Homo sapiens: one gene and its partners. The protein of the gene in region 1 purifies or fractionates together with the protein of each later gene. This does not show direct contact. Each region holds a gene or a part of one and is shown in the gene's direction. Other genes may lie near its edges. The genes, in order: POLR3K, GPN3, POLR3B and URI1.

Region 1 (7,223 bases):
AATATGTTGGTGCTACGTCAGTCTTAATGTTTGCATGCTACTCCAGTTTGTACTGTGTTGTGGGAGTTTGGAGTTTGAAACTACGGGAAGAGTGAACTCTTTGTTTTTTTTTTTTTTTGAGATGGAGTCTTGCTCCGTAGCCCAGGCTGGAGTGCAGTGGTGTGATCTCGGCTCACTGCAAGCTCCGCCTCCCAGGTTCACACCATTCTCCTGCCTCAGCCTCCTGAGTAGCTGGGACTACAGGCGCCCGCCAACACGCCGGGCTAATTTTTTGTATTTTTAGTAGAGACAGGGTTTCACCGTGTTAGCCAGGATGGTCTCGATCTCTTGACCTCGTGATCCGCCCGTCTTGGCCTCCCAAAGTGCTGGGATTACAGGTGTCAGCCACCACGCCCAGCCGAGTGAACTCTTATGTAATCCTGAAATTTAAGGTTTGGCAGCCCAGGTTTGCGCTATTCAGTTACTTGGAGTCTGAAGTGTTGTTTTTGTTAGGTAACAAATCGGAAGTACCCAAAACTGAAAGAAGTGGATGATGTGCTTGGTGGAGCAGCTGCCTGGGAGAATGTTGACTCTACTGCAGGTAAGAGGGAAAACTGTTTCTGTTGCTAAACTGTGGATAATTATGAGGCTGTTGATGCCACTGCTTGGCAGAGTCTATGATGTCATATAAATGATGTAGGTTTCTAAAAATAGAAAATGGTTCTTGAATAATTTATTTGTATTTGTTACTGTTTAATAATCTGTCAGACAAGCAATATTTGTGCCAGCCTTGGAGTCATACAGGCCCGGGTCAGATTCTCAGGGCAACCTTGTATTGTTGTAGGACCTTCCTTGGGTCTCTTGACTTCTCTGGGGCTAATCCATATTCGTAGACCGCGAGAGCATAAAGTGAATTATACCGTGCTTGGTATATAAGAGGCACTCAACAGGTGATAGCTTTGATAATGGCAATGATGAGTAGATTAATAAAAATAAGAGTCTAAGGAAAAAAGTATGTTCTTTCTGTTTGATATGGTTTGGCTGTGTCTCCACCCTAATCTCATCTTGAATTATAGTTTCCGTAATCCCCAGGTGTCCTGGGAGGGGCCCAGTGGGAGGTAATTGAATCATGGGAGCGGTTTCCCCCCATGCTGTTCTCCTGATAGTGAGTGAGTTCTCACAAGATCAGATCGTTTTATAAGCGTTTGCGTTTCCCCTGCTCGCACTCATTCTGTCTCCTGCTGCTCTGTGAAGAGGTTCCTTTCGCCATGATTGTAGGTTTCCTGAGGCATCCCCAGCCACGCAGAACTGTGAGTAAATTAGACCTCTTTTCTTGGCTGGGTGTCGTGGCTCACGCCTGTAAATCCCAGCAGTTTGGGAGGCCAAGGTAGGCAGATCACTTGAGGTCAGGAGTTCCAGACCAGCCTGGCCCGCATGGTGAAACCCTGTCTCTATTAAAGATAAAATAATTAGCCGGGTGTGGTGGCGCTCGCCTGTAGACCCAACTGCTCAGGAGGCTGAGGTACGAGAATTGCTTGAACCCAGGAGGCAGAGGTTGCAGTGAGCCGAGATCACACTACTGCACTCTAGCCTCGGTGACAAGAGTGAGACTCTGTCTCAAAACAAACAAAACCCCTTTTGTCTATATAAATTACCCAGTCTCAGGTATTCATAGCAGTGTGAGAACGGACTAATACACGCTTCTAATATAGATTTTTAGAAGTTAATACCAGTGAGCATTAAACTGCAGATTGGGTAAAATACATGTTTATTGCATGTCTGGTAGACATAGATGTGGCCAGGAGAGGAAAGGGGAAGACGTAAATGTAAGTTATATTGAGAGGTGAGAGAGATAACTGATGGTTAGTACTGTGGTTTTCCCCCTATAAAAGAACATATAGGCTGGGTGTGGTGGCTCACGCCTGCAATCTCAGCACTTTGGGAGGCCGAGGCGGGCGGATCACCTGAGGTCAGGAGTTCGAGACCAGCCTGGCTAACACGGTGAAACCCCATTTCTGCTAAAAATACAAAAAATTAGCCAGGCGTGGTGGCAGCACCTGTAATCCCAGCTACTCGGGAGGCTGAGACAGGAGAATCGCTTGAACCCGGGAAGTGGAGGTTGCAGTGAGCCAAGATTGCATCATTGCACTCCAGCCTGGGCAACAAGAACGAAACTCTGTCAAAAAAAAGAACATACAAATCTGCTATGTGAAAAAGTTAGCAGCTGGCACGGTGGCTCACACCTATAATCCCAGCATTTTGGGAGGCCAATGTGGGCGGATCACGAGGTCAAGACATCGAGACCATCCTGGCCAACATGGTGAAACCCCGTCTCCACTAAAAATACAAAAAGTAGCTGAGCGTGGTGGTGCCTGCCTGTAATCCCAGCTACTTGGGAGGCTGAGACAGGAGAATCGCTTGAACCTGTGAGGCGGAGGTTGTAGTGAGCTGAGATCGTGCTATTGCACTCTAGCCCAGGCAACAGGAGCAAAACTCCGTCTCAAAAAAAAAAAAAAAACAAATTAGCCAGGCTCAGTGGCGCGTGCCTGTAGTCCTAGCTACTCAGGAGGCTGAGGCAGGAGAATTGCTTGAACCAGGAGGCGGAGGTTGCAGTGAGCCGAGACCATGCCACTCCAGCCTGAGTGAGACTGTCTAAAAAAAAAAAATCTTTTTACCTAATGTCAGAAATAGAGTGTTTGAAGCCATTTCTGTCAGGTGTAGGATAAGTTTCTCAAAGTGAAATCGCTTTGAAGAGTGCAATGGTGTGATCTCGGCTCACTGCAACCTCCACTTCCCAGGTTCAAGTGATTCTCCTTCCTCGGCCTCATGAGTAGCTGGGATTACAGGCATGCGCCACCACGCCCAGCTAATTTTGTATTTTTAGTAGAGATGGGGTTTCTCCATGTTGATAAGGCTGGTCACGAACTCCCGACCTCAGGTGATCTGTTGGCCTCAGCCTCCCAAAGTGCTGGGATTACAGGCCTGAGCCACTGTGCCTGGCTTTTTTTTTGAGATGGAGTCTCTTTTGCCCAGGCTGGAGTGTAGTGGCACGATCTCTGCTCACTGCAAACCTATGCTGCCCGGGTTCAAGCGATTCTCCTGCCTCAGCCTCCCTAGTAGCTGGGATTACAGGCACCTGCCACCACGCCCGGCTAATTTTTGTAGTTTTGGTAGAGACGGGGTTTCACCATCTTGGCTAGGCTGGTCTTGACCTCCCGACCTCGTGATCCACCTGCCTCAGCCTCCCAAAGTTCTGGGATTACAGGCAAGAGCCACCATACCCGGCCTCTTCTCTTCTTTTCAGCCCACACCAGAATCGCCCTTAATGCTCAATTCTTTTTTTTTTTTGAGATGGAGTCTCACTCTGTTGCCCAAGCTGGAGTGCAGTGGCGCGATCTCGGCTCACTGCAAGCTCCGCCTCCCGGGTTCACGCAATTCTCTTGCCTCAGCCTCCCGAGTAGCTGGGACTGCAGGCACCCGACACCACGCCTGGCTAATTTTTTGTGTTTTTAGTAGAGACGGGGTTTCACCATGTTAGCCAGGATGGTCTCGATCTCCTGACCTCGTGATCCGCCTGCCTTGGCCTCCCAAAGTCCTGGGATTACAGGCGTGAGCCACCGCGCCCGGCCCTTAATGCTCAATTCTTGACAATGCAGGCTTTTCCCAGCATTTACTTCAAAACTCTTCCACCATCTAACCATTACTTAGTCTTAGGCATTTTGTTACAGCAGCACAAAATGGACCAAAACAGTCACCTTCCATGTTACGTTTCCAACCAGCCTTCAGCTGGATTTGAGAAGAACCATGGGACTCAGGGAGGGGAGGGGGAGAGTGTGTGAGTCACAGGTCTCCCAGATTCCCTTAGTGTTACAGCGTGGTGGGAATGACATCACTGTTTGTAGATCTACCCTTGTCAAGGGGGATCAAATGAGCAGGGAGGTTCTTTACCATCTTTAAAGATATTAAGTAGTCTGGGCACGGTGGCTCATGCCTGTAATCCCAGCACTTTGGGAGGTTGAGGTGGGCGGATCATGAGGTCAGGAGTTCGAGACCAGCCTGGCCAACATAGTGAAAACCTGTCTCTACTAAAAATACAAAAAAATTAGCCGGGTGTGGTGGCGGGCAACTGTAATCCCAGCTACTTGGGAGGCTGAGGCAAGGAGAATCACATGAACCCGGGAGGCAGAGGTTGCAGTGAGCTGAGATCGCCCCACTGCACTCCAGCCTGGGTGACTGCGAGATTCCATCTCAAAAAAAAAAAAAAAAGATATTATAGTAATACCTACTTTTTTTTTTTTTTTTTTTTTTTGAGTGCAGTGGCACGATCTTGGCTCACTGCAATCTCTGCCTCCTGGGTTCAAGCGATTCTCCTGCCTCAGCCTCCCAAGTAGCTGGGATTAAAGGCGCCCGCCACCACGCCTGGCTAATTTTGTATTTTTAGTAGAGATGGGGTTTCACCATGTTGGCCAGGATGGTCTCGAACTCCTGACCTCAGGTGATCCGCCCGCCTTGGCCTCCCACATATTAAGTAATACCTACTTTTGACAGCCATGAGTAGCATCTTTTTTTAAATGTGGTCACTTCTTTTTTCTCATTGCCAGAGTCGTGTCCCAAATGCGAACATCCTCGTGCTTACTTCATGCAGCTTCAGACCCGCTCTGCAGATGAGCCGATGACCACCTTCTACAAGTGCTGCAATGCTCAGTGTGGACACCGCTGGAGGGATTAGGGCCAGGATGGCCCAGCTGCCCTAGTGTGTGCTTGCCTTGTCCCTCGGGGTAGATGCTTAGCTGGCAGTATGAGTTGTGTGTCCTGAGGGTCTTTGCTAGTGTGGTGGAAAGATAAACCTTTTGAGGTGAAGAGCCAGGGGGTCAGGAAATATGGCCTATCTGCCAGGCAGGGTGGATGAAGTCATGAATGTCTGGGAGTTTTTCTGTGTGGGGAGGAGACAGAGACCCATAACTAAATATGCTCTGTGTAAAGTCCTATTCTTTCATCTTCCACTTTATTGGCAGTTGACATTCCCTTACTCCCAATCAACACTCTTAAATATTTGTACTGTTTGTAAAACTTAGTACATGTCCCTAAATATTTAACTGTTACTTGTAAACTTGTGTAATTTATTATTTATTTTAATCAAAATTCTGAATATTTCATTTAAATGAAAGTTGGAATATTGCCTTCTCAGTGTTTTAAATAGCTTAAGAGGTAGAAAGCAAACCCCAAATCACAGTGATCCCAGAATAGACTACATACTTACATTTGAACAGGCTACGAAAATGTTAATCACCGGGATTTCAATTTCTTTCTTTATTCCTATTCTTACTCCCTTATTCATTTTTTTGAACCTCCCCTGATTTGCTTCCTCGGGTTGCTTTAAATGTATAAGATACTATTTATTTATTTATTTATTTTATTTATTTATTTATTTATTTAAGACAGAGTCTTGTTCTGTCGCCCAGGCTGGAGTGCAGTGGTACGAATTCAGCTCACTGCAACCTCTGCCTTCCGGGTTCAAGGGATTCTCCTGTCTCAGCCTCCCAAGCAGCTGGGACTACAGGCATGCACCACCACACCTGGGTAATTTTGCATTTTTAGTAGAGATGGGGTTTCTCCATGTTGGTCGGGCTGGTCTCCAACTCCTGACCTCAGATAATCTGTCTGCCTCGGCCTCCTAAAGTGCTGGGATTACAGGCGTGAGCCACTGTGTCCCACCAATCTTTACATTTAATATGACTATTTTCTTATTGTTTGAACATGTTGATCAGTTCCTGATCACAATATGGGGCCTATCCTATATGGGTCCTAGAGTGGTTGGATTTTATTTTTTAACCTAAACACAGACCCTAGGTTTGAAAGGGTGTACTGGGTCTGTTAGACTTATAGGCATTTTTTTTTTTTTTAATACTTAGCCATGCATCTCTTGCATTGTCACTCCTTTAGGAGTGCATCTGTCTTCTAAGGGTTAGCTCTCCTAACTCTTTTAAATCCCCTCTAATTTGATTAATGATTGGGGGCAGCCTTCTGAACAATATTTCACGGGACGAATACCCAGTTTGTTTGGTGGGGGTGTACCTGACTTGGAGGAGGACCATGGGCGAGACCCGATCTTATTTTAGATGAGTTTCTTGACAAAATTTTTTCAGCAGCTGTTTGAGTGTCTGGTTCGTGCACTGTACTTGAGCTCTGTGGCCTGTAGGATGTACGCAATTTCCACTTTATTTTTAATAGTCTAGTTAAGTCCTGAACTCTTGCAGCCACAAATGTTGGTCCATTGTCTGATCTCAGAGGCAGTCCAAATCTGGGAATAACGTCTCCTAACAACACCTGAGTCACTTCTAGTGCCTTCTCTGTCCAGATGGAGAAGGCCTCGACTTATCCTGAAAAGGTGCAAATGAACACCCACATGCACTGATAGCCCCCCTTTCAGGGCAATTTGGCGAAGTCCATAAGCAGCTTTTCACAGGGCATGGCTGGCTCATGTTTCCTGAACTCCTGGGGGCCAAGCAGGCCCTTGTTATGGATTGTTCTGAACACAAGTTAAACACTGTTTGTTTACAAATGGCTTGAGTAATAGCAGCGAGCCATGGCACATAGAAATGATGCCTTAATAATGTCTTTAGTGCTGTTTGTTTTTTTTCCCATGTGAGTTCCTTGGTGGAACTGTTCTACAAATCGGGGTCACCATTTCAGGTATGGCCTCCCATTGGAGAATTTTACCGTCCTCCTTCAATGTAGTTCTTATTTTTCTGGGCAAACCAAGCCCTTTTATTTGCAGGGGTGCTTGGGATCTCTGGGAGGGAATCTCCGGGAGGAGAGGCATAGCTGAGGCCTCCTCTTTAGAAGGTGGAGTTGTCACTGCAGCCTGCTTTGCCTTTTTGCCTTTCTATTTTTTTTAGCCTTTGGTGTTCTTGCTTTTCGGTGCCTCTCGCAGGGCATCATGGCCACCTCTTTTGGGGCTCATACAGCATCTAAGAGCTGCAAAATTTCTTCCTTGTGCTTTTTTTTTTTTTTACTTTCAGTAGTTAAAAGGCTTTTTTTTTTTTTTTTTTTTGTAAATAGCCTCATGAACATGCAAAGTGGCAGAAGCATATTTGGAATCTTTGTAAATATTTGTCTTTTGGTCTTTTCCTAGCCAGGGAGTTCTTGTCAGAGCTATCAGCTCTGATTTCTAAGCAGAAGTTTCTGTAGGCAAAGACTGCACCTTTACTACTGAGTCCGAAGTCACCACTGCGTACCCAGCT
Region 2 (9,403 bases), on another chromosome or scaffold:
AGGCTGGAGTGCAGTGGCATGATCTCAGGTCATTGGAACCTCTGCCTCCCAGTTTCAAGTGATTCTCCCACCTCAGCCTCCCAGGTAGCTGGGACTAGCGCTGCTACACCCAGCTAATTTTTGTATTTTTAGTACAGACGGTTTCACCATATTGGCCAGGCTGGTCTCAAACTCCTGACCTCAGATGATCTGCCTGCCTCAGCCTCCCAAAGTGATGGGATTAAAGGTGTGAGCCACTGCACCCAACCAACATATTTCAAATTTTAAAAAAGGATAGTGTTGCATATTATTTTTACTTTTCATGTTTCCATCAGAAATAATGTCTTACAAATTTTTTCCTATAATTCTGGTTAAATCCTAATGGCTCCAAGATTTTTTTCTTTCCTTTTTTAGAGATGGGGTCTCCCTCCTTCACCCAGGCTAGAGTGCAGTGTCGTGATCATAGCCCACCGCAGCCTCAAAATCCTGGGCTCAAACGATCCTCAGCCACCAAGTAGCCAGGACCACCAAAACGCCTGGCTAATTTTTGTACAGATGTGAGCCACCATGCCTATCCTGGGTCTTAATTTTATAGCTTCCTAATCTCATTCCTACAGTGAGCTCAATAAAGTAGTTGGGGCTCCTGGGCTATCCATGTGATTATCTTGCTGTCTTTATTTTTAATGAAGTGATTTGGGTATTGAAAAGACTGTTCTTTTTTTTTTTTCTTTTTTCTTTTTTGAGGTAGAGTCTTGCTCTGTTGCCCAGGCTGGAGTGCAATGGCGTGATCTCCGTTCACTGCAACCTCCGCCTTCCAGGTCCAAGCAATTCTCCCACTTCAGCCTCCCGGTAGCTGGGATTACAGGTGCCCGCCACCACGCCCGGCTAATTTTTCCATCTTTAGTACAGACAAGGTTTCGCCATGTTGGCCAGGCCGGTCTCAAACTCCTGACCTCAACTGATTCGCCCGCCTCAGCCTCCCAAAGTGCTGGGATTACAGGTGTGAGCCACCACGCCATGCCGAAAGACTGTTCTTTGAATAGTAATTAAGGTGTGCTAGAACTAATAAGTTGGTCTGTAATGTTTCTAATTTCGTACAAATTCTTTTTCTTTTCTAAACTTAAGACAAAACAACTGATCCTCATCCTGCAATTTATTCAATGACCAAGAGTTCATGGGCCAGGCGCCAAGTTTATAAAGTTTTTGTTATGAACTTTTCACCGCCGCTTCCTTTGCTATTTTATTCCAAGCCACCATATCGTTTTCTTGTATTCCAACTTCTTAATTCTACGCTTGCTCCTTCTAGTTTATTCTCCAACTAGCAACCAGCGTGATCCTTTTTAAGTAAAGTAAGATCACATCACTTCTCTGCTGGCAACCCTCCTGTGTCTTCCTTTCTCAAAGGTTGACTTTATAAGGTATGAGGGAGTTTTGAAGGAGTGATAGAGCTGCTCTGTATCTTTAGTGTGGCAGTGCTTACATAGCCATGTGCATTTGTCAAAACCCATCATATTATACATGAAAAAGTAAGACTTTAATTTGTGTAAATTATGCCTCAATAAACCTGACTTTAAAGAAAAAAAGTGCTGGGCACGGTAGCTCCCGCCTGTAATCCAGCACTCTGGGAGGCCGAGGCGGGTGGATCACGAGGTCAGGAAATCGAGACCATCCTGGCTAACATGGTGAAACCCCGTTCTCTACTAAAAATGCAAAAACTTAGCCAGGCGTAGTGGCACGTGCCTGTAGTCCCAGCTACTCAGGAGGCAGGAGAATCGCTTGAACCTGGGAGGCGGAGGTTGCAGTGAGCCAAGATCACACCACTGCACTCCAGCCTGGGTGACAGAGCGAGACTCCATCTCAAAAAAAAAGAAGAAAAAAAGTAAGGAGTTCCGGAGTTCCCATTAGTTAATAATGGGATTTTTGGCAGATCACTTCCCCTTTCAGATTAGTAAATATGACCGGAATTGATGATTTTTAAGACCCCTGCCAGTGCCAACATTGTATCATGTAGCATAATAAACCTGATTCTAGTTTGAAAATTTTATTTTGTATTTCTGGGAATATAAGCTTTTCATAAATTAGTCTTGGTTTGTGTTTTTTAATGGGGTTCCTTAAACCAAACTGAAGGGCATACTGTCTTTTTTTTTAATTGTAGTTTTAAGAGTTTGGATAAACTAAAGGAAGCATGGAGATGAACGACAGGCGGAGATAAAAGGAAAGGACAAACAACCTCTTTGTGCCTGTTTTGTCATCCATAAAGTGGGGATCATAATAGAACCTTCCAGGATTACAGGCTCATGCCCATCTCTACTAAAAATACAAAAATTAGCCAGGTACGTGGTGGCGCACACCTGTAGTCCCAGCTACTTGGGAGGCTGAGGCAGGAGAATTGCTTGAACACAGGAGGCGGAGGTTGCAGTTAGCTGAGATCGTGACACTGCACTCCAGCCTGGGTGACAGAGGGAGACTCTGTCTCAATAAAAAAAAAAAAAAAAATTCACGTATCTCCTGATACACCAGGATCCTGCAGTCGGCCAAGGACTGTGAAGAACAGAAAAGAAACCCAAGACTCCATCCCATCTTTAAGAAGTCTTCAGTAGCACCAGAGACAAAAAGGACGGCCATGCGGGCGGATCACGAGGTCAGGAGATCGAGACCATCCTGGCTAACACGGTGAAGCCCCGTCTCTACTAAAAATACAAAAAAGTAGCCGGGCGTGGTGGCAGGCGCTTGTAATCCCAGCTACTCCAGAGGCTGAGGGAGGAGAATGGCGTGAACCCGGGAGGCGGAGCTTGCAGTGAGCTGAGATGGCACCACTGCACTCCAGCCTGGGCAACAGAACGAGACTCTGTCTCAAAAAAAAAAAAACAAAAAGGATGGCCATGGGTGCAACAGGGGCCCTGACTGCGGGTTGTACTGAACGGCAAACATATCGCAGTTCTTGCTTTTAGGGAATAAAGTAGGGAGAGGAAGAGGAGGTAGAGTCTCCAGCAGTGACTTCAACAGCTCGCTGTCTTCACTATCTAGGAAATAGGTGTAAAAACCTGCTCAAAACGAAATAGATTTGTGAAAAAAGGAACTTCAGTGTGAAGAAAATGTCAAGATCAAGGCACCTCGGATATTCAGTCATTGGTCTCATTGGCGATTAGAAATCCTCGTTTGAGGTCGGGCGCAATGGTTCACCCCGTAATCCCAGCAATTTGGGAGGCCGAGGCGGGCGGCTCACTTGAGGTCAGGGGTTCGACACAAGCCTAGCCAACATGGTGAAACCACCTCTCTACTAAAAATACAAAAATTAGCCGGGCGTGGTGGCAGGCGCCTGTAATCCCAGCTACTCGGGAGGCTGAGGCAGGAGAATCACTTGAACCTGGGAGGCTGAGGTTGCAGTGAGCTGAGATCGCACCACCGCATTCCAGCCTAGGCAACAGAGCGAGACTGTCTCGCTCTCAAAAAACAAGAAAGAAAAGAAAAAAAAAGAAAAAGAAATCCCCGTTTGACAGGAAGGTGGCTCATGTCACTAGAGGGAAGGAACTGGTTTATGGGCCTGGATGCCCCCAGTTGAACCGGGGGACATCTTCCTCCTCTGTCCCTCCCGCCTCGCCTTTCGGTGGACACACAGTCCTGTGCCAGACAGCAAACGTCCCAGCAGGGCTCGCAGCGCCCCCTCGGGGCAGAGAGATGCACGCGGGCGACTGTCGCAGTCACCTCGTGGCCACTGCACCAAACGCTCCTCCGAAGCTTCCCTCAGAGACCCTCCCTCAACCGCGAGGCAGTCCTCCCCTCTGCCCTCTGTCCACAACAAAACTGCTCCCCGCCTCTCACTTGAGGGCACCGGGGCCAGCCCCCGAGACGAGAGGTCGGCCGCAGCCCTCCTCCACGGGGCTCACGACCCGGGGGCCTCACGACCCGGGGGCCCCATGCTGCCACCCTTACCCCGGGGCCCCCAACCTCACCCGCCGCCGCCACCCTCGGTCCCGGCCACAGCGGGCGGCTCTGCAGAAGAGCTACGCTCCGTCCAGTCGGACCCCGGACCCTGGCCGGGCATCTCCGCGGCGCCGAGACCGCGAGCCGTGTGCGGGAGCAGCTGTCCCAGCATCCCTCCCCCGACAGCACGCGTGCGTCAGGCTGCTGGTATTCCGGAGAGGCGGCTCGGATGCTGGCTTCTCGCCCCTCCGAAGCCGTTCGGACACTGCCCGAACAGCTTCGGGAGAGCGGGGCGGGCAGATCCGCGACCCCGGAGTTACGGTGGGGGAGGGGCAGGAGCGCTGCGGTCGCTGAGCGTTTGCACGTTTGCACCTCTCTGTGGAAGCAGTGCGTCACAGGAGGGAAATATACATGCTCCCCAAAACAAGAGGTGCCTTCCACTTCAGTATTCCAGATCCTCAGCACATTTGCAAATCGCGAGGGTCACCATACAGGTCAAACGTCTGCACGCAAACCACGGACCGAAGCACGTGGCGCAAGGATGCGGAGCTTTATCTGTTGTCCGTTATTACTCAGGTATCCAAGCTTAGACAGCATCCCAACGGCCGATTTCCATCAACTACTTTTGCGCACGCGCAAATCCTCTCCCTCGCCCCTCCCCTTTTTTCTCAGGACGCGTTTCTCACGGGATTTGGCCCGCGGGCTGCCCCGTAGTAGGAGGTGTGGTAGAACTGGAGGCGTAGAAAGAATGTGGATTGCGATTGGTTCGCACTTCACTTTCCCGGAGCTCAGTGGGCGTCGCGCGAAGGCTAAGGGAGTGTGGCGGGCGGCTCCGGGAGCCAACATGCCTCGGTATGCGCAGCTGGTCATGGGCCCCGCGGGCAGCGGGAAGGTGAGGATCTGCGGGGACAAGGAGAGAAAAGTAGGAGTTCGTGGAAGGCGGGAGATTGGGTCCTGAGGGAGTGAGCCGGCGGGTGTGTGTACTGGGAACCCTGAGACCCCACGCAACTCATTTCTGCTGTCTGGCTTCACGTTCTTTTTTGTTGTTGTTTTGAAAGGGAAATAATGGTAGTTGTTAATATTTATTGTATACTTAAGCCCCAGGCAGCAGATGAAACGCCTCGCTTATTTCTACAACAACCCTGTGAGAGAGATCTCATTTTTCTCATTTTACAGAAAACGAGATACAGAAAGGTTAATTAAGTTCTTTGCCCCGCAAAAAAATATAAATCCAGTTTTGTCTCAACTCCAGAATCCGGCCCTGTCTCGCTCCCAGGAGGGTAAAGTGGGGTCTCATTAATTACTGTTTCTCAGAACTTGGGACATGGACTTTTGGTATTTAAGGTGCTTTTAGGTGGTAGGTGGTACATGGACCCCACATTAAGGAGCATCAGATAATGTGTTAGGGAAATTGTTCCCTTTTCATTTCTCTTTCAGTTCTCAACTTCGCATTTAGGAGAAGTTGTGCTCGGTGCTAGTGTGTATCTTCAGCACTTCTTTAATCCCCAGGTCTTTTCAGAGAGCAGTTCTTAGTCTCAGAGCTTTTAATAGGCACCTGTATTTAGCTAAAAATAGAACATTTAAAGATTTTATATAATTTTATGTCTAATTTCACGTTATGTCAAATATAAGTGGTTTTCAGTTTACAGTAGGGATAAAATTTTTTCTTGTAAACAAATATTAAGGGAATGTTAGGAACATTCAAATACAGTGAGAATGGTGAAGATATGGATCAAATAACATATGTGTGGGAAACATAGCCAGGCGTGGTGGCTCACGTCTGTAATCCTATCACTTTGGGAGATGGAGGTGGACGGATCGCCTGAGCCCAGGAGTTTGGGACCAGCCTTGGCAACACGGCGAAACTCTGTCTCTACAAAAAAATGCAAAAATTAGCCAGGCCTGGTGGCAGGTACCTCTAGTCCCAGCTTCTCGGGAAGCTGAAGTGGGAGGATTACCTGAACCCAGGAGGTTGAGGCTGTGGTGAGTGGTGATCGTGCCACTGCACTCCAGCCTGGGTGACAGAGGTACTGTCGCAAAAAAAAAAAAGAAGAAGTGTGGAAACACTAGAGTCTGTGGAGGTGTTGTGTGGCCTCAGTCTTTAACAAACACATTGTTCTAAGCTGTTGACTTATTCTGGGTAAAAACATGTACATGTAACTAAGATACCTATGGCCTTTAACTTACCCAGAGTCTGTAGTCTTTTGGGGAAGACAAATAGATGACCTGTCAATTAAGATACAGTGTGATGTGGCCAGGTGTGGTGGCTTAAGCCTGTAATCCTCGCACTTTGGGAGGCTGAGGCCAGCAGATCACTTGAGCCCAGGAGTTCAGGGTCAGCCTGGGCACCATGGTGAAGCCCTGTCTCTACCAAAAATACAAAAATTAGCTGGGCATGGTGGCGAGAGCCTATAGTCCCACCTACTCGGGGGGCTAAGGCTGGAGAATCGCTTGAGCCTGGGTCAAAGCTGCAGTGAGCTATGATGGTGCCACTGCACTCCAGCCTGGGTGACAGTGAGACCCTTTGCAAAAAAAAAAAAGATACAGTGTGTGATGTATGGAGAGGGCATTCCAGACAGAGACAACAGTATGTGTAAAGGCACTGAGAGGACAGCATGATGGATGTTTTTTCTATAGTCTATTTTAATTTTTGGGCTGATTGTATTAAACAAGTATCTTTATAAGCTTTTGATGCTTACTATCAGAAACATTCCTTGAGTACGTTCTTTATCCCAGGCACTGTTTTGGGCCCTGGGGGTTGTATGGGGAAAAAAACATGCACACACAAAATCCGTGCCCTTGTGGAGCTTATCTTTAAACATAATAAGTCAATTAGAAACAATTATCAAGTATTTATTATGTACTAGGTATTGCGCTAGTCCCTGTGCTTGGGAAACTGAATAAGACACATCTCTGCCTTTAAACAGAGTATGACACAGACAAGTAGCCTAGAGACTTTTTTTTTTTTTTGAGCCAGGAGTCTTGTTCTGTCATCCAGGCTAGAGTGCAGTGGTGTGATCTCAGCTCACTGCGACCTCTGCCTCCCGGGTTCAAGCGATTCTCCTGCCTCAGCCTCCTGAGTATCTGAGATTACAGGCATACGCCACCACGCCCAGCTAATTTTTGTATTTTTAGTAGAGACGAGGTTTCACCATGTCGGCCAGGCTGGTCTCCAACTCCTGACCTCAGGTGATCCGTCGACCTCAGCCTCCCAAAGTACTGGGATTACAGGTGTGAGCCACTGCACCCAGCCCGAGATGTTAACATAGTACGGTAACAACTACATAATGGATAAAGAATTATCTAAACCAAAAGTTACAAACTGATAGCCACCTCCAGACTATTTATTGATCTTGGCGTTCTTTCATCTTGGAATGCTCTTCCCCTTAGGTTGGCAAACTCCTTCTCATATACTCATATCTCCCCTACTCAGAGACATCATCCCTGACCATCCTACCTAAAGCTTTGTTTGCACTGTACAAGTCCTGGTAGAGACACTGTGTTAGGTGTTACACTATGTAACCAGAACTCTTCCCTTTAAATACCGCTTGTCACATTTAGAACAGTAAGGAGCCTTAGTGATTATGGAGGACATCCCAGTTAGAGACACGAAAATTGAAGGGCAGAGTGGAGAAGTAAATTCCCCAGAGGTACCCATGAGTCTAAGTCAGGTTTGAATCTGCAGCCCAGTCAGGTATCTTTTTCCCTTGTTGTCAGTCAGCCTCTTGGTTGATGAAGGCATAGTTTTGACCTTAGTGGATAGTATTCCAGAGTATGGAAGGTAGCACTACACTACCTGTTGCTTTAACCTCTCATGCCTTGTGACATTACAGAGCACCTACTGTGCCACCATGGTCCAGCACTGTGAAGCCCTCAACCGGTCTGTCCAAGTTGTAAACCTGGATCCAGCAGCAGAACACTTCAACTACTCCGTGATGGCTGGTAAGTCCTGAGCAAAGGCTCCCCCCACCTTCAGGAACAGTAAGGGCTGGGGAGGCAGTGAGTACTAGCTGCTTAGCACTGATACTTATTATAGTCTGGATCCCTGGTGTTATGGTAAATAGCATGAGCTTGTCATTTGGTCACATCTGTTCATGGTGATATGTGTGACAGTATCCTTTCTTGGTCTTTGATGTAAGATTTAAAAGTAAATGGGGCCGGGCGCGGAGGCTCATGCCTGTAATTCCAGCACTTTGGGAGGCCGAGGCGGGTGGATCACGAGGTCAGGAATTTGAGACCAGCCTGACCAACATGGTGAAACCCTGTCTCTACTAAAAACACAAAAAAATCAGCTGGGTGTGGTGGCATGTGACTGTAATCCCAGCTACTCAGGAGGCTGAGAAAGGAGAATCGCTTGAACCCAGGAGACAGAGGTTGCAGTGAGCCGAGATTGCGCCACTGCACTCCAGCCTGGGCAACAGAGCGAGACTCCATCTCAAAAAAAAAAAAAAAAAAAGTAAATGGACACTTCCCTCAGCACCCTTTCATTCTGTCCCTTTTGTCCTTAGTCCTGCTGTAGTGAATCATGTGGTATATTGCTGATCACTATAAGTCAGGAGCCTGGGTTTGTTTTTTTTAATTCTTTCAATTTGTTCATTCAAGTGTCTGTTGAACACCTGTTTTACGCCAGACACCGGAGTTATAGCAGAGAATAATACAGACATTATCCCTGCCCACACCAACCCTTTAGGAAATAGGCAATAAACAACATGATGAACATGTTACAGAATGTGATGACTGCAGACAGGCTCATGAGAAGTACTCATTGAGGTTGCTTTAGCTAGAATTGTCAGGGAGAATGGTGACTCTGAGGAGGGGATCTTTGAGCCTAGACCTGAAGGATGGTAATATGCTCCTCAGGCTGAGGAAAGTCCTTCCAAAATGAGGGAACATTTAGATCAATAAATATGCCAAGCTGGGTGCAGGGACATGTGCCTGTAGTCCCAGCTACTTGGGAGGCTGATGTGGGAGGATCACTTGAGCCCAGGAGTTCAAGTCCAGCCTGGGCAACATTGCAAGATCCATCTCTGAAAAATAAAATAAATAAATAAATAGCCTGGAGGTGAGAAAGGATTTGGTATTCTCCAGGAAAGCTAAGATGTCAGTGAGCTAAAGCGTAATGTCTGAAAGAAAGAAGTGGGTAGGGGCTAACAGGACATGATAAGATGGGATTTTATCCTGTTGTCAGTGGGGTGCCACTAGAGGGTTTTAAGAAGAGGAAAGGATTGACATTTGATACACGTTTTGGGGTTTTTTTTTTTTTTTGAGACAGGGTCCAGCTCTGTCGCCCAGGCTGGAGTGCAGTGACACAACCTCTGCCTCCTGAGCTCAAGCCATCCTCCCATCTCAGCCTCCCAAGTAGCTGGGACTACAGATGCGTGCCACCATGCCTGGCTAATTTTTATACTTTTTTTTTTTTTTTTTTTTTTTTTTTTTTTTTTGTAGAGACAGGGTTTCACCATGCTGCCCAGGCTGGTCTCAAACTCCTGAGCTCAAGCAA
Region 3 (5,472 bases), on another chromosome or scaffold:
AGTAGTCTAGCCGCTGCCTCGGGTGCTGCTTTCTGGCCGAGGAGCGTAATGATGCTGTCATTTTTCCCATCATTACCTGATCATGTGTGCTGGGTTGAGTGGGAGGGAGCATGGGCGTCGTTGGAGGAAGTCGCTCTTTAATGAGCCACACAATGAAGGCTAGGTAATTAGAGCAGTTCGGAACCTTGAAACTGGCCTTTTGTCAGGGATTTGCACATTAGTGAGGCATTGCTATGGGGATGTTTACAGCACGACTGTTGTTCTACAGAAGACACTAAGGGCATAAGTCACAAAAGAGAGGTCCAAAAGGAAGACTTCAGGAAGAAGAAAATCCCTATTAAGGTAATTAGCTCATAGAGGATGTTTCACTGGACAGTCATTTCTCGTGTGAAGCCACAGCCTCCCCTTTTTGCTACCTTTGCCCTAAAAAAGCCGTTCATTTTATTGTTGTTCACGTCAAGTTTCTACCTTTGCAAATTGTTCAGATACAAGGTAAGGTAAGGTTTTATACACACACATGCACGTTGGAACATTTTAAATGATGGAGAAGTATTTAATAATAGAGAAGATTAAAGGGCTTTCTGGAATATGAATCAGTACATATGGAAATTTAAAATAGATTAGCTTGGATCGGAGTCATTGGGTAATGTACTAGTCAGGAGAAGAAGCGAAAGGTACCCCCGTTAAATGCATTTCCCCAATTTAATGAAAGCATGAACATGATTCCTAGATAAATTACATCAACCCAAGCACATTAAAAACGTAATTTTTGAACTCGAATGCATTAAATAGGTCTTTAGATAATCTTTTAAGAAAAAGTAACTCACCAAGTTTGTATTTGTACTGTTAACGGATCAAATACAGGTTAAGCACCCTGCGTCCCCTCATCATAACATCAACTGTGCATTTGTGAGGGTTAGTCTTCTCCCATTCTCCTCCTCAGGAAACTCTGTCTGCATAGTTACCACCACCACGTGCACATTCTCAGCCTCAGTTCTTGCTTTTCTTTTCTAAAATAATACAAGCTTTATTTTACTGATTGCAAAAATGATCCCTGCTCATTGTAAAACATTCAAAAGTTACCACAAATATAAAGTGAGTCACATTAATTCCCACCACCCAGAGATGACCACTATTAACATTTTGGTGACTCTTTCAAGATTCTGATAAGGGCAGAAAAATACAAATATACACACAAAAAACTTAAAATTTTACGTATGATTTTGGGGGCTCCATACACTTACAAAACTTGTTTGAGGGCCCCCTTGGGACCATGCTGATCAACAAACTGCTTTTTTCACCTCACAGTTTGTCCTATACACCTTCCATTTCAATAAATGTGTGTCCACAACAGCAGGTCTAATGGCTTCACAGTCTTCTTCTATCTAAATGTCCCAGTGGACATTTGCATATTCTCACCTTATGCTGTTATAAATAGTGTGGCTGTCAGCATTCTTGTGCACATACCTTTGCCACTTTTGGGATTACAAAATCAAAGAATATGCACATTTACAGTTTTTACACACACTGTCTTACTGCCCTCCAGAATGGCCAATCCTTTGTTCACTAAGGAATCCCCCTTCAATTCCTGGTCAGCACCCGATCTTCCAAGCCTCAGTTGCTATTCTTCTTGGACTCATTTTCCTCCTCGTTAACTGTGAGGACCTAGTTTTCTACCTGTTAAGAGTCAGGATTTGTACTGGATACCTACTGTCCTAGCTGCTGCAGACCCTTGAGGTGTAGGGTAAGGTTGTATTTTGGTCTGAAACCTGAAAGAATAATTCACTTTCTCCCCAGGGACCCTTCTACAGTTGTAGCCATTGATTAAGAACTAAGTTCAGTTTACCAGCTCTTCCGGAAAGAAGAGAAATTAAAGTCCTAATTGGAATATGAGGCAAAGTGGTTAGGAACATGGACTGTTGTTGCTAGGGTTAAGTGGGAACATATGTGCACATGCACACATACACACATTTCTTAGTTTTGCACAAGGGACAACATGTTGTAAGTATAGTACCTCCAACACTCATAGAAATCACCAAGCCTGAAGAGCACTAGACAAGTTACCATTTGATTGAATACCACTGTCCTATTCAAAAGTCTTGTCTTTTCCATCAGACTTTACGTATCTCAGTGACAGAAATCAAGTTATAATTGTTGAGCGCCTTGCCTAGAATAATATACTGCTAGTATAGTTGATGCTTATCAAATACATGGAGATTGATTGAATTGGTTTAAAACTCTTTAAACAATGAAAAAAATTTAAATCTGAGTAAATTTCCCAATGGTTCAGATTTCTGGAGCTCTTTCAAAACAGTATATTGGCAAATGTTTTACATTTTAAGGAGAAAGGGCTGGATGTGTGGTAACAACTGACTCAACTTGCATGCTTTAAACACTGGAGGGAATGGTGTTTGTTTCCTCTTTTCTTTTGCTTCCTTGGATGTTTCTTTTTTTCTGGGCACATACGTACTTATATGATAGTGCAACTGAACACTTAGGAATAGAAAGATAATTTGATAGAATGATAATAGAACTTTATAGAGACCATTCTCACTTCCTACGTGGAGGCCTTTGTTTCCGAGTTGCTGTCTGTCTAACGCTTGCTGACTTGCGTTTCAGGTGCCATTACTGCAAGTCATCCTGCCACGTGTCTTCCCTCCGTATTCCGTATGCCTGCAAGCTGCTCTTCCAGGAACTACAGTCTATGAACATCATCCCCAGGTTAAAACTGTCCAAGTACAATGAATGAGGATGGAAAAAATGATTATTAAAGAGAACAAGTGATACATCCAATGCAACGGAAAGCAGAAGGGATTTAGGACTACGTCTCCTCCTGTGAAGAATTCCCTTGCGTATTCTCTCTCTAAAACAACCAAAAAAAAATGGAGAGGCTTTTTATATACTCTAAGACTGGCTAAACAACCTTGATCATTGAGCCTCGAGCCATGGGAGAGATGCTGACCATGTGGACTGCAAGGCTGCTTGATTCACAGATGGATGTGACCTAAAGGATAAATAAGCTATTACTTATGTGCTGATCTCTTGACATTCACTCATTAGAAGACCTTACTCCTTCAAGCAAATGTTTGGGGTCAAATTTACCATATCTTCTGGCTAACCATATTCAAGATTCTTCTGAAACTTGGAGGATGTAAAGAATCCATTTGATTTGGTCAGCCTGGCTTTTGTCGTGGTGGCTGGCTCGGATAAATTTTCCCAACAATTAAATCTTGCCTTTACACACCCAAACTTTGTAATTTTAGTCTTGGTGAAATATAATGAATTTGTTCCTACCTTGTCAAGCAAGAATGTCGTCTTCTCCTATGGACTCAATTGCTATTATTTTAAACCTGCATGATTGTACCATGCAATACTATTCGTTAAATATCTGAATCTAACCCCGTGGCTGCTTTGTCATGCTCTGTCCCTTCCATGCCTGCCAGGATGCTAGCTGTCCATTTCATTTTTAATCTGACAGACTTCCTTACTCATTTCTAATTTGTTCTCAACTGCTGCCCCAAAGCCAGATAAACATTTGTGTTAAGGATTGTTTGTAAAATCAGAGTCAGAAACACTTTGAGTAATGGCCTAAGCCTTCATTCCCAGCATGTCACACTGAAGATGTTCAACAGAATATTAATAGGTATTATATACCAACAAGAATCAAGCTCCTATGTCAAACTAAGGTTGAGAAACGGGGTAACCAAGTTAAACATTCCACAGGACTTTTTCAAAGCCCTTAAAGATCCCAAGCTAATGTGTACTGGGTTTCAAAAGAGGGATGTTCCAGGGACCGAGGCTAGTCATTGACTTGAGAACTCAACCTCACTTCTTCTTTTTCTTCACAATAAAAAATTTCTAACACACGTGGGTATAACAGTCATAGCGGTATCAGTGAAAGCAGAATGAAAGACACTGCAGGTGAGCAGGCCTTCCTCAGCCCTCATGGCAGGGACTCAATAGGTATTCTTTTTTCTTTTTTTTTTCTTTTGAGACAGGGTCTCTCACTCTGTCACCAAGGCTGGAGTGCAGTGGCAAGATCACGGCTCACCGCAGCCTCAATCTCCCGGGCTCAGGCTATCCTCCCACCTCAGCCTCCTGAGTTGTTGGGACTACAGGCGCATGCCACCACACCCAGCTAATTTTTGTATTTTTGGTAGAGATGGAGTTTCGATGTTGCCCAGGCTGGTCTTGAACTCCTGAGCTCAAGTGATCCGCCCGCCTCGGCCTCCCAAAGTGCGGGGATCTCAAGTGTAAGCCACTGCGCCTGGCCTCAATATGTATTTCAACAGGTATTTCAAAAAGGAGTTTGAATGTTCAGATCTTTGCTATGCCAATTCCTTTTTTTAACCTAGCTTATAGTTCTCAAAACTGATGGTACATAAGGATTGCCGTACTGGATTAAATGTACAATCATACTGTACTTTGTGGGCTTTTTAAGGAGTTTTCTAGGGTGATCCTGATTATCTCACATCGTGTAGCAAATCCACTTCCCAAATCCATTTGCCCTGCAGTGTGGGACACACCATTTCAGTGAACACTCAGAGGGTCAGGCTGGAAGAGTTAAAGGCAGTGTGCTGGGTGCTGGCAGGAGGACTTCATCGTTCATCATTCAGTACCTGCCACGTACAAGGCACTGGACTAAGGATAAAAGAACAGGACAGGGCCTCTGCCTGACCGAGGACATAGTCCAGTGGAGGAGGCCAAGATATATGTGCTGGTCATGGAGCACTGCCCTGCAGTCAGTGCTGAGGATTAACCTCGGCAGTGCTGAGGGAGTGCCCAGGGCAAAGCAGCCAACAGTGCTCTGAAGATTTGGAAACACTTCACAAGTGTGAGTATGCCCTTTATACATGAAGAAACTGACGCCCTGAGTAGCTAAGTGACTCCCCAGAGCCTCACTGCTAACAAGGGGGACAGCAAGGGCCTTGGGACCAGGCATTCTCACATGCAGGGCTTTGTTCTGGTTTTATCTGTGATTATATATTTTTCAGTCACCAAAAGTGATAGTTTTTAAAAAAATTCAGATGCCCTTGAATGGTTGTATCTTTTATAAATGAACATCCTTCTCAGGAAACCATTCCAAGCCAGTCTAATCTTTCTGAGGGAGTCACCTTTCTAAGTGTCTAGGAAATTCTAAGTTTACAAGATCTAGAAAGTATGGGTTTTCAAGTCGAGACATCCTTAAAGGAAAAAATTCTATCAGATTGATATCTCAAAAATTAGCAACTGCCACATTTGAATAGCTATTTGACTCTGAGAAATACTTTAATGAAAAGCAGCCAGACACCAGGCATGGTAGCAGGCACTTGTAGTTCCAGCTACTCAGGAGGCTGAGGCGAGAAGGTCATTTCAGCCTACGAGTTTGAGACCATCCTGGGCAACACAGCAAGACCCCATCTCTAGGGAAAAAAAAAAAAAAAAAGCAGCCAGATTTGGTAAGCTAGTCCCACTACGGTTTTATTTATTTGT
Region 4 (9,521 bases), on another chromosome or scaffold:
TTAGGTTTGAAAACTGTACTTCTTTGTACTTTTTTTTCATTTTCCATTTTTTTTTATGAAGAGTAACATCCAATAAAACTCTTAAGCACAGAGTCCTGTTTGAGGATGAAGATGTGAATATTGCAACAACCACAGTGCTTGTCTGAGAAGTGCATCACTTGGTGATAATCCTGAGTGCTTGTTCTTATTTTGAGAAATATAAGTCCAGATTCCACTATACCAAAGACAGATTGGGGTGGGTATCAGTGTAAGACCTGAGAGAAATGTAGGCTGTGAAAAATGGAGGCATGCCTATAATTTACTTTTTACTAATTCATATTGAACTCATGATCAAATTGGTGAGGGTTTTCACATTTTTCTTTTATTTTTAAGTCAGTTGATAATTTTGAGGTTTTTAAATATTTGGTAGGTTCAAAACCAGGATTGCCATTTTTCACTGTTGTAAAACCTCTTGAGAAACTTTAACCCGGAGGTATCTATGATTGGGCCTCTGCTGAAACTATATGTAAAATATGAGTTCTTTTCTCAGGGAAGAGCCTAGAGTTTTTCTAGTTTCTCATAGGGATCAGTGACCTAAAAGGGTTTTTTAATTGCTACTGTAATTAAGAAAACCCACAAAATTACTTTTTTCTAAAATATGCTTTAGAAAGAAAATATAGAAAGTGTAAAGTAGCAAAACCTATGAATTACGGTAAGATTTAAGTAGAAATTTGCACAAACTTTCAAAGCTTAAGTCAGCTATAAACTCATCACACCTTTTCTAAAAGGTCCTTTCCTTTGATTTGTAATAGGAATTTATATTAGTTATAGAAAATTTGGAAAATAAAAAGAACAAAAATTACATATAAACTCATCAGTAAAAATTAACTAGGCACTTTAGGATATTTCTTTCAAACGTAGATGAATGTGTTTTTACATAATTTTAAAGGTTTTTTGCTTTGAATTCACATCTCATTTTCTTAGAGCAAAAGATTAGTAATGAGTGAAGAAACAGGCACCTGTGATAACTGACAAGTCTTCAAACACATGTGTATGGTTGTTGTAGAGAGAACAGTAGAACAGATTTTTCTGTCCAGGCTTACTATATATATATATCCATTGCACTGTTTTCTCATTGTTGAAAAGTTAAATTGAAGAAATCTAGTAGAATGTTAGCTGCATCTCTCTTTAGATAATTTTGTTTCATTGACTTGAAAAATTATGTTTTTATATGCGGGTTAATCTTGGTATCTATGTCTAATAGTAAAGTTTTCTGATGGACTCATAAAATATAAAGAACATAGATTATTTCATCAGCATCTTCTGATGACATAAATTCCTTGGTATAATAGAGTTATAAAAAAGGAATATACCACCATTCTGCCTGAATTTTGTGGTACATTTCAGTTACTTATATCAATTGAAATTACTGAATATTTTGCCATGACCATTTAGAAAAAAAGTGTAATGCTATTGATTTAATTCAAGTACATTTAAATTTTCCATGAGGAGTGTTCCTTTTCCCACCAAATTGCATAAAGCATAACAGTATAGATCCCTTTTTCAAGAATTTTTAAATAAAATGTAACTTTTATCAATTTGTTTAGATTGTTTAAAAGGATACTTTGAAAAAAATCATTATTTCTTGCTTTAGTAACTGGAGGACATCTCTTTATCTATATAGAATCCATGCCCAAACTTAATATTCCTCTATTTTCTTGATTTTAGAGGTGAAAAGCCAGGCATCCTTCAAGCTAGTGGATCTTTGACAAAGATGCATTGCAAAACAATCAACAAACAATCAGAAAGGCATGCTATGTGTGAGTGATGATCCCTGCAGCATATGCCATAGGCTTGTTGTAGAGGAGCTGCTCAGTAAATGGTGGATTCAATTGAAACAAGTCTTTTTTGGATGCTTAATGGGAAGTTGTAGGGTGGGTATGATGGACTAAAAATTATTTCTAAAGAAGGTTATATATTGTATATATTCCAGAATCTTCCGTTTTTATCGTTTCTTAAATTAAAAAATAAAAATTTAACTCTGTCCCAGGTTAACTCAGATGTTAACACTTATATAGAAATTTTTTTCCTCTTTCCCCGTTAGGCATCTCACAGTATTTTCTGCTTGTCTGTTTAGGATGTTAGGTAGAGGAAAAGAGAGTGATAGAAGATTTTTTTTCTTAAAAAAAAAAAAAAAAAAAAAAAAAAACTGGGCCAGGCATGGTGGCTCACACCTGTAATCCCAGCACTCTGGGAGGCCGAAGCGGGTAGATCACAAGGTCAGGGTTCGAGACCAGCCTGACCAACATGGTGAAACCCCGTCTCTACTAAAAATACAAAAATTAGCCGGGTGCGGTGGCGCGTGCCTATAATCTCAGCTACTCAGGAGGCTGAGGCAGGAGAATCGCTTGAACCTGGGAGGTGGAGGTTGCAGTGAGCCGAGATCACGCCACGGCACTCCAGGCTGGGTGAAAGAGTGAGACTCCATCTCCAAAAAAAAAAAAAAAAAAAAAAGTTCAATGTTAGTATTTGCTGTCTATTTTAACTTCTTACTTTAAAGTAAAATTAGCAAAGTCTTATTGTTTCAACCTGATTTAAATTTTATCTCCCTTTTTTATTATTTAAAGGTTGGAGTCTTTATCACTGGCCTCAAAGGATGTAGACTTTTTTTTTTTAATAGAGATTTTTATTTTTGTCAGTCACTTTTAAGAGGATTAAAAATGTTGATCCCTTTCATATTTCCTCGTCCCTTTAAAAATATTCTATTATGACAAATTTCAAACATATGGAAGAGTGAATCTTGATCACCTATCTGTCTGTACCCTAATCCGTTAATCCATTTTTTTCTGATGAATTTCAAATTAAGTTGTGGACATCTGTGTATTTCACCCCTAAATACTTGAGCATATCCCTCATTTAACTTGATTTCTCTCTTACTTTCTACAATTTTATGCAAATGAGCTGTTTCCCATAGGTTCTGTCTTGATCTTAATCCTTTAAGGGTAAGGGCTAACTTGTGGTTGTGTTAATGGTCTTCATCGCTGCTGCCTATTTTTTTTTTTTAATTTCCTTAAAACAAAAGGTACTCTCAAAAGGCATATTGCACATGATTAGCAAGATTCAGAAGGAAGTGGTTAAAGTTTCTTACATGCCTTATACCTATGCTTTTAGTTCTTGTTTTGTATAAGGAATGTTGCATGAGGATATTGGAAAAAAATTTAAAATTAAGAGTTGAAGGCGGAACCTGATCTATAAGGATCCATTATGTTGAAGCCAAAGAAGCAGGTCTAGCTATTCTAAGTAAGTAGGCTGGAGAGGTGTTTCTTAACTCTATCTGGGTTTTGTTTTCCATTTGAAGAAAAATTATTTTAAGCAATTACCATTTTTGATTACTGTAATGACTCCTGTGTCCAAAAATTAATTACGTTTCTAATTATTAAAATAGAAAAAAAAATCTGTTCAAATTTTGTTATAAATAAAGACCCCAGACTTAACCTCAGTAATGCATTAGTTCTTAGCATAACTTTTGCATTTTCTGTTGCATAGGCTTTGTGATCTTTAACAGGATTATTTAAGCCTGAAATAATAGAGATACTATTTGGAGATCACTGTTTGACTAAGCCCTGAACATTTCCACGAATGTAGCCTTTAGAGAGAGAGGGTTCCTCAAGCTGTAGTTTCTTCCAGAGACATTGCTTGACTCCTCCTGGCCTCCCTTCATAAAGGATTTCTACATGGGCTGCATTTTAAGTGATCTTCTACTTTTGTATTTTTAGAAAATAATTCAAAATTTATAAATAGCAACTCTAATCTTAAACTGCTCTCCAGTATGTCCGCATTTTTATTCCAGAGAGAATTATTAATAAGTTGAAAACTGATTATATTTGACTTGAAATATTGACATTGATCTCTGGTATTGCCTGTTTTTGAACGTACTGTTCTTTTAATGTACAAAATAGATGTTTTTTGTGAGGAAGTTGTTTTTTTTTCTCCTAAGCATTGTTACCAAAATAAGACTTATTGAATGGTGACTTTAATACTAGCTTCTTAATATTCATAGAAATATTTAGATATCTAGGCTGGTGTATTTAGTCCTTGAGCATTTGCAGAATTACTTATCTGAAACATAAATAAGCTGTTAGTGTTATGTTATTAATAGTGAGTGTTGACTGTCTAGGCACTGTACCAGTCAGTCCTATGGAGACATTCTCCCATTGATTGCTCACACCAGTCCTGTTTCCAAAGCCCCTGAATGGTTACATTCAGCTGTACTGTCTTTCAGCAAGTTATACTATTTGTATCAAATTGGTTAGTGAAATCTTGTAGGTAATAGTCTTTCTTGAAAGTTTTGGAATTGATGTTTTTTGATGCTTCATGAAAAAAATGAGTTTTGAGTTTTGGAACCAAAATAGTAGTTGCTCCATGCTGGGCAGTGTGTTAGACCTTTTATATTTAATTCTGTTGAACCTGTGAGATAAGTATTAGTCCAATTTTGCCATTGAAGTTACTAAGACTAAGGTGAATTTGTGTAAATTGCATGTAGAGCTTGGGATTCACTCTCTGGTCTGACTTCAAAGCCATGTTCTTTCTGGTACATAGCCTTGTGCATGAAGTTTTTTTGCCATTTTATCCATATAAAAATTTTCCAGGAGGAGGATTTTTGCCTTAAACAAAAGAATAAAACATGTTTCGTATTTATTTATAGAAAAGGATTTTTTTTGGGGAAAGTTATAAAGCAGTTGCACACTAGAAAATGAGAAAGCTTTCATGAAGGAATGCAGGTCAGAAGACCTAGCTAGGTTAAACTCATTGCTTACCTCATCTTGATAGAGGAGATCTGGCTTCTTGCTATGTGGTTTTTCCATCTTCCTTCTACTTTGTCTTCTGTAAGAGAAAAATACTGATAAGTGACATTTATTATAGGTTATGTAAAATAATATATATGTGAAATTCCTTAAGATCTTAAGACTGAGCTAATTTTTTTTTATTAATTATGCTACTGTTGCTTCAGGGAACTAAGCAGTAAGCTGAAACCAATTCTGTGATGTTTGTCATTTATATTATCTGGAGAGTTGTTACCTACATTGCAGTTTATCCTGATTTCAATTTGACAATGTCTACATGTTCTTTTAAATTACTTGCTGAGTTGGTGAATTTTTGTTTCTGTTATTTTTAAAAACTGACAACATCCTTCTGCTTAAAAAAAATTCAGTGCTGTAGTTTTGCTTGCAGCCTGTATCTTAGCAGGGAACCCTTTGGAAACCCAGTCTCCAGAGAAAGTTTGACGGGCATCTTGGCATAGGCTGCTGCCTGGTATTACTCAAAAAGAAGGGCTGTTCATTTCCAGCAGGTGTTAAGAGCTGAGTAAGGCCCATAGCATGGAAATACGATCATCTCTGCCCCTACAGAGTTACATATACCTTTTGGTTGTTTGAAATTACTTATTTGGTAGCTCTGTTTGATGTAACAAGAAACAGACTCCTAGGCCAAATTGAAACGCCTTTTGTATTATCTCTACTTAATTTCTTCTACCCCCAGTTGATTCTCTCTTACCTTAATCACATTATTATGAATAATTGAAGAGCTGATGATGCATTTTTCAGCCTAAGGTTTTCTGATGAGGACTAAAGCATCTGATCAAATTTCATGTTCATGATTTCAACTTCACAGCCAGTATCTATTCACTCAAAAGCTTTATTAAATCTCTTCTTTCGGCCGGGTGTGGTGGCTCATGCCTGTAATCCCAGCACTTTGGGAGGCTGCGGTGGGGGGATCGCTTGAAGCCAGGAGTTCGAGACCAGCCTGGCCAACGTGGCGAAGAAACCTAATCTCTATGGAAGATACAAAAATTAGCTGGGCGTGGTGTCATGCGTCTGTAGTCTCAGCTACTCAGGAGGCTAAGGCAGGGGAATCACTTGAACCCAGGAGGTGGAGGTTGCAGTGAGCTGAGATTGTGCCACTGCACTCCAGCCTGGGCAACAGAGAGAGACTCTGTCTTAAAATAAATAAATCTCTTCTTTTTTCATCTTGAGTCCCTTCTTCTCTCCAAATATCAGGCCCTCTTTTACTGTCTCCCTTAATTTTCACATTTTATTTGGTCCAGATAGTCTTGTATCTTAAAAAACAGTAATTCTCAAAATTTGAGTATTCTGCTTCTAAATGCCAGAGTCCCTGAAGAGTCTTAATTCTTCAATAAATGTATGGTAGAATAATGCCATTGCTAAACTGTATAAAAACAGGATTTTAAAACTAAAAATAAAACCACATTAATCTTGAATTTGCTAAAATTATGTTTTTGATTAGCTTGTTTTATGATACCTGGCCTACTGGGCCTCCCAAATTGCTGGGATTACAGGCGTGAGCCACCACACACGACTGAAAGAAGAGATTTAATAAAGCTTTTGAGTGAGGCCAGGTGCAGTGGCTCACGCCTGTAACTCTAGCACTTCAGGAGGCTGAAGTGGGAGGATCATGAGGTCAGGAGTTCAAGACCAGCCTGACCAACATGGTGAAACCTCCTCTCTACTGAAAATACAAAAACTAGCCTTGCATGGTGGCGCACACTTGTAATCCCAGCTACTCAGGAGGCTGAGGCAGGAGAATTGCTTGAACCCGGGAGGTGGAGGGTGCAGTGAGCCGAGATCACGCCACTGCACTTTAGCCTGGGCGACGGAGCGACACTCTGTCTCAAAAAAAAAAAAAAAAAAAAAAAAAAAAAAAAAAAAAAAAAAAAAAAAAAAAAAAAAAGAAAAATCGTTAATAATGTGTGTATTTGGTGTTTTCTGTCAACAGGAAGAAGGTAGATAATGACTATAATGCCCTTCGAGAAAGACTCAGCACCTTGCCTGATAAATTGTCTTATAATATAATGGTATGTTTGGTGTGTTTCTTTTAAAGTAATAGTTGTTTCTTGTAAACATATTAACTATGTGTCGGTTCACAGAATGTCAGGCTGATGGACTGTGTCCAAGGTAACTATGTAGCAAGGAAGATTTGTTTTGTTTTACTTTATAAGAACACAGTAATTGTAGTAATTGTTGGTATTTACCTTTTTTTTTCAGAATATATATGGTGACACAAATGACATAAATATTAGCACAAAATTGGACATATTTCAAATGGAAACTTACTATATAAAAAATGTAATTATGACAGAAATATGGTACTAAGTCGTTTCTTGTTAGCCAGAGCAGGAATAGGCCATAATGTTTTGTAATTCACAGAATTAAACCTTAGGACATTGATTTTTATATAAAAACGTGCTGCTAATTTTTGTTTTAATGATCTTCACATCGACATAGTGATCTGTTCATGAGCCCTGGATTAGAGCCTTTCATTGCATGAATGTTCTTTCTTATGAAGACTTTGTTCTTTTATACTAGTCCAAGTATTTTGTATATATAGCTAGATAGATCCATTAAAGCTATTTGTTTACTAATTCCTGCTTTGCAAAAGTGTCTACTTTATTGAAAATAATTTTTAGTTTTCTTTATCAAAAGTATTTTGCATTGACAATGTTTCACTACTAGTTGCTTTCACTTAGATTTGCAAGTGAATGAAAAGTATAAACATGCCGAGACAGTACTACTTTCTTTAAGAGCTATATGTAAATATGGTGTGGATTTATTTTCCTGTTTTAACATTGATTTATGAACATAAAGCAATTTTCTTTAGATTTTCCTAGTAAAATTTTAATATAGTGTTGAATTTCTGTGAAGCTGGCATTTTATTTTTCCCAATGTATAAATAAAAAAATTCAGTTATGTAAGGCTTTTAATGCGAAGTGTTTTATAAAATGTACTTTTCAGTGTTTTATGTTTTTTCCCTTTTTTCTTTTTTTTTAAACAATAGGTACCATTTGGCCCTTTTGCCTTCATGCCAGGAAAACTTGTCCATACTAATGAAGTCACTGTTTTACTGGGGGACAACTGGTTTGCAAAGTGCTCAGCAAAGCAGGCTGTAGGTTTAGTTGAGCACCGGAAAGAACGTAGGTACCCATTTTAAATGATGTTTCTTTGTTGTATATGTATCCATTCACAGATTGCCAAGCTGAAGGGCTGTTTCTTACCAAAAGTACCTTCCGTGATCTATGAATCCAGGCTGTTTGTGATTCTGTTGAATTGTAGGTAGTTTGAGTAGAACCAACATTTGAGAATGAGCTGGAGAATGGAGCATCCGGGTTGGAAATGTCACCTACATTGGCATGTTTTCAGAAGTTACAAAGTTTCAAAGTCATTATGTGATTTTGTAGTTAGAAGTTGGGAAGACATAAAAATTGGAGTCATTTTATACCTTATAATTTTTTTTTAGTTGCTATTATAGACTTATTTTTGCACTTAATACTTTAGTACACAGAAATAATGTGTTTTCTCCTTAGTGAACTAAGAGAAATACCTGTTTACATAAGTAGACAATTCTTAAAAATGCTTTTTGGTTTGGAAAAAAAACCATATTTTCATTTGATAGAGGAGACCAGGTGTGAAAAGGTGCTACCTAAAACAGCACCCTTATCCTTTTTCAGTTGTTTGAGTTCTCTGCATCCCTTTATTAGGGCAGCTCTTGAGTTTTGTTTATCCGTGCTATTATCTGTAGGTGTATAGAAGCCTACATACACACACACAACACACACTACACATTTTGCAGTTGGATGAGCTAGCTTGGGTTCTAGCTTAGTTATATTTTAAAATTAGGTTCAGTTTATAATCTGTTGTTATTTCTGTAATACGTATTTAGATTGAGAGTATAATATCCGCCCTACCTGCTTTTTAACCTTTTAGTTAAATGTGTATTTGAAAATAAATGATGGGAAGATCCTTTTTTATAAATAAGGTCATACTAAACAGAAAACAGCTGAGTTTTCTAAAGCTGAACTTGATTTCACTTATACATGAATGAGTACTAGAGAACTCATTTACTCAGTGAAATTCTGGGAACTATATTTGGAGACTCTAATTGCAAATCAACTCCTATAAGTTTATAATTGATATATATTTTGATCTTTTGTGACACTAATCAGAATCTTATTGTTAGGCCTGTATGTAATTTCTGGCAATGATAAATCTTTTGGCTTTGCTGCATTATTTTTGTCATGTATATTAGCGAAAGAGAATGGGCATACTTTTTTCTTAAAGACCTTACTGAAGACGAAGCCTCTCTTTATATACTGAAGTAGCTCTGATGTTATGAAATGAATCCATAGCCTGTTGAAGTTTGTTCACATTGATTTTCATATTTCAGTGAAAAAAATCTTTATAATTAGTTATAACTTAAAATATTAATGGGAATACTTATACTACAATAGAATAGAGCTCTAGAGTAGAGAAACATGTTTTTGTAAATCACTTTCTAGTAGTTAAATATGGTTTTGGAAAGTGACCAAACATAGATGACTTTTGGGATCAATATTTATCTAAAATAATTTTCAAAGTACATATTTCCTGTTACAATAAATTCTGGGCCGGGCGCAGGGGCTCATGCCTGTAATCCCAGCACTTTGGGAGGACAAGGCAGGTGGATCACCTGAGGTCAGGAGTCCGAGACCA

Evidence for each region.
Region 2: the proteins of POLR3K (region 1) and GPN3 purify together in Homo sapiens (affinity purification with mass spectrometry; 4 studies listed by BioGRID and IntAct, with this or other methods). This does not show direct contact.
Region 3: the proteins of POLR3K (region 1) and POLR3B purify together in Homo sapiens (affinity purification with mass spectrometry; 6 studies listed by BioGRID and IntAct, with this or other methods). This does not show direct contact.
Region 4: the proteins of POLR3K (region 1) and URI1 purify together in Homo sapiens (affinity purification with mass spectrometry; 3 studies listed by BioGRID and IntAct, with this or other methods). This does not show direct contact.

Annotation. Positions count from the first base shown.
Region 1 is NC_000016.10:44,915-52,137, reverse strand, and holds the end of POLR3K (DNA-directed RNA polymerase III subunit RPC10), read left to right. Parts: intron 1-492; coding exon 493-580; intron 581-4,580; coding exon 4,581-4,708; 3' UTR 4,709-5,731; downstream 5,732-7,223. UniProt on the Homo sapiens protein: Core component of RNA polymerase III (Pol III) which synthesizes small non-coding RNAs using the four ribonucleoside triphosphates as substrates. Can mediate Pol I proofreading of the nascent RNA transcript.
Region 2 is NC_000012.12:110,463,548-110,472,950, reverse strand, and holds the start of GPN3 (GPN-loop GTPase 3), read left to right. Parts: upstream 1-4,747; coding exon 4,748-4,795; coding exon of another isoform or gene 4,796-4,825; intron 4,826-7,736; coding exon 7,737-7,845; intron 7,846-9,403. Other genes in the region: protein FAM216A, read right to left, coding at 3,933-4,075. UniProt on the Homo sapiens protein: Small GTPase required for proper localization of RNA polymerase II (RNAPII). May act at an RNAP assembly step prior to nuclear import.
Region 3 is NC_000012.12:106,506,801-106,512,272, forward strand, and holds the end of POLR3B (DNA-directed RNA polymerase III subunit RPC2), read left to right. Parts: intron 1-827; exon of another isoform or gene 828-1,010; intron 1,011-2,619; coding exon 2,620-2,749; 3' UTR 2,750-3,398; downstream 3,399-5,472. UniProt on the Homo sapiens protein: Catalytic core component of RNA polymerase III (Pol III), a DNA-dependent RNA polymerase which synthesizes small non-coding RNAs using the four ribonucleoside triphosphates as substrates.
Region 4 is NC_000019.10:29,978,452-29,987,972, forward strand, and holds part of URI1 (unconventional prefoldin RPB5 interactor 1), read left to right. Parts: intron 1-1,707; exon of another isoform or gene 1,708-1,799; intron 1,800-6,771; coding exon 6,772-6,850; intron 6,851-7,830; coding exon 7,831-7,966; intron 7,967-9,521. UniProt on the Homo sapiens protein: Involved in gene transcription regulation. Acts as a transcriptional repressor in concert with the corepressor UXT to regulate androgen receptor (AR) transcription.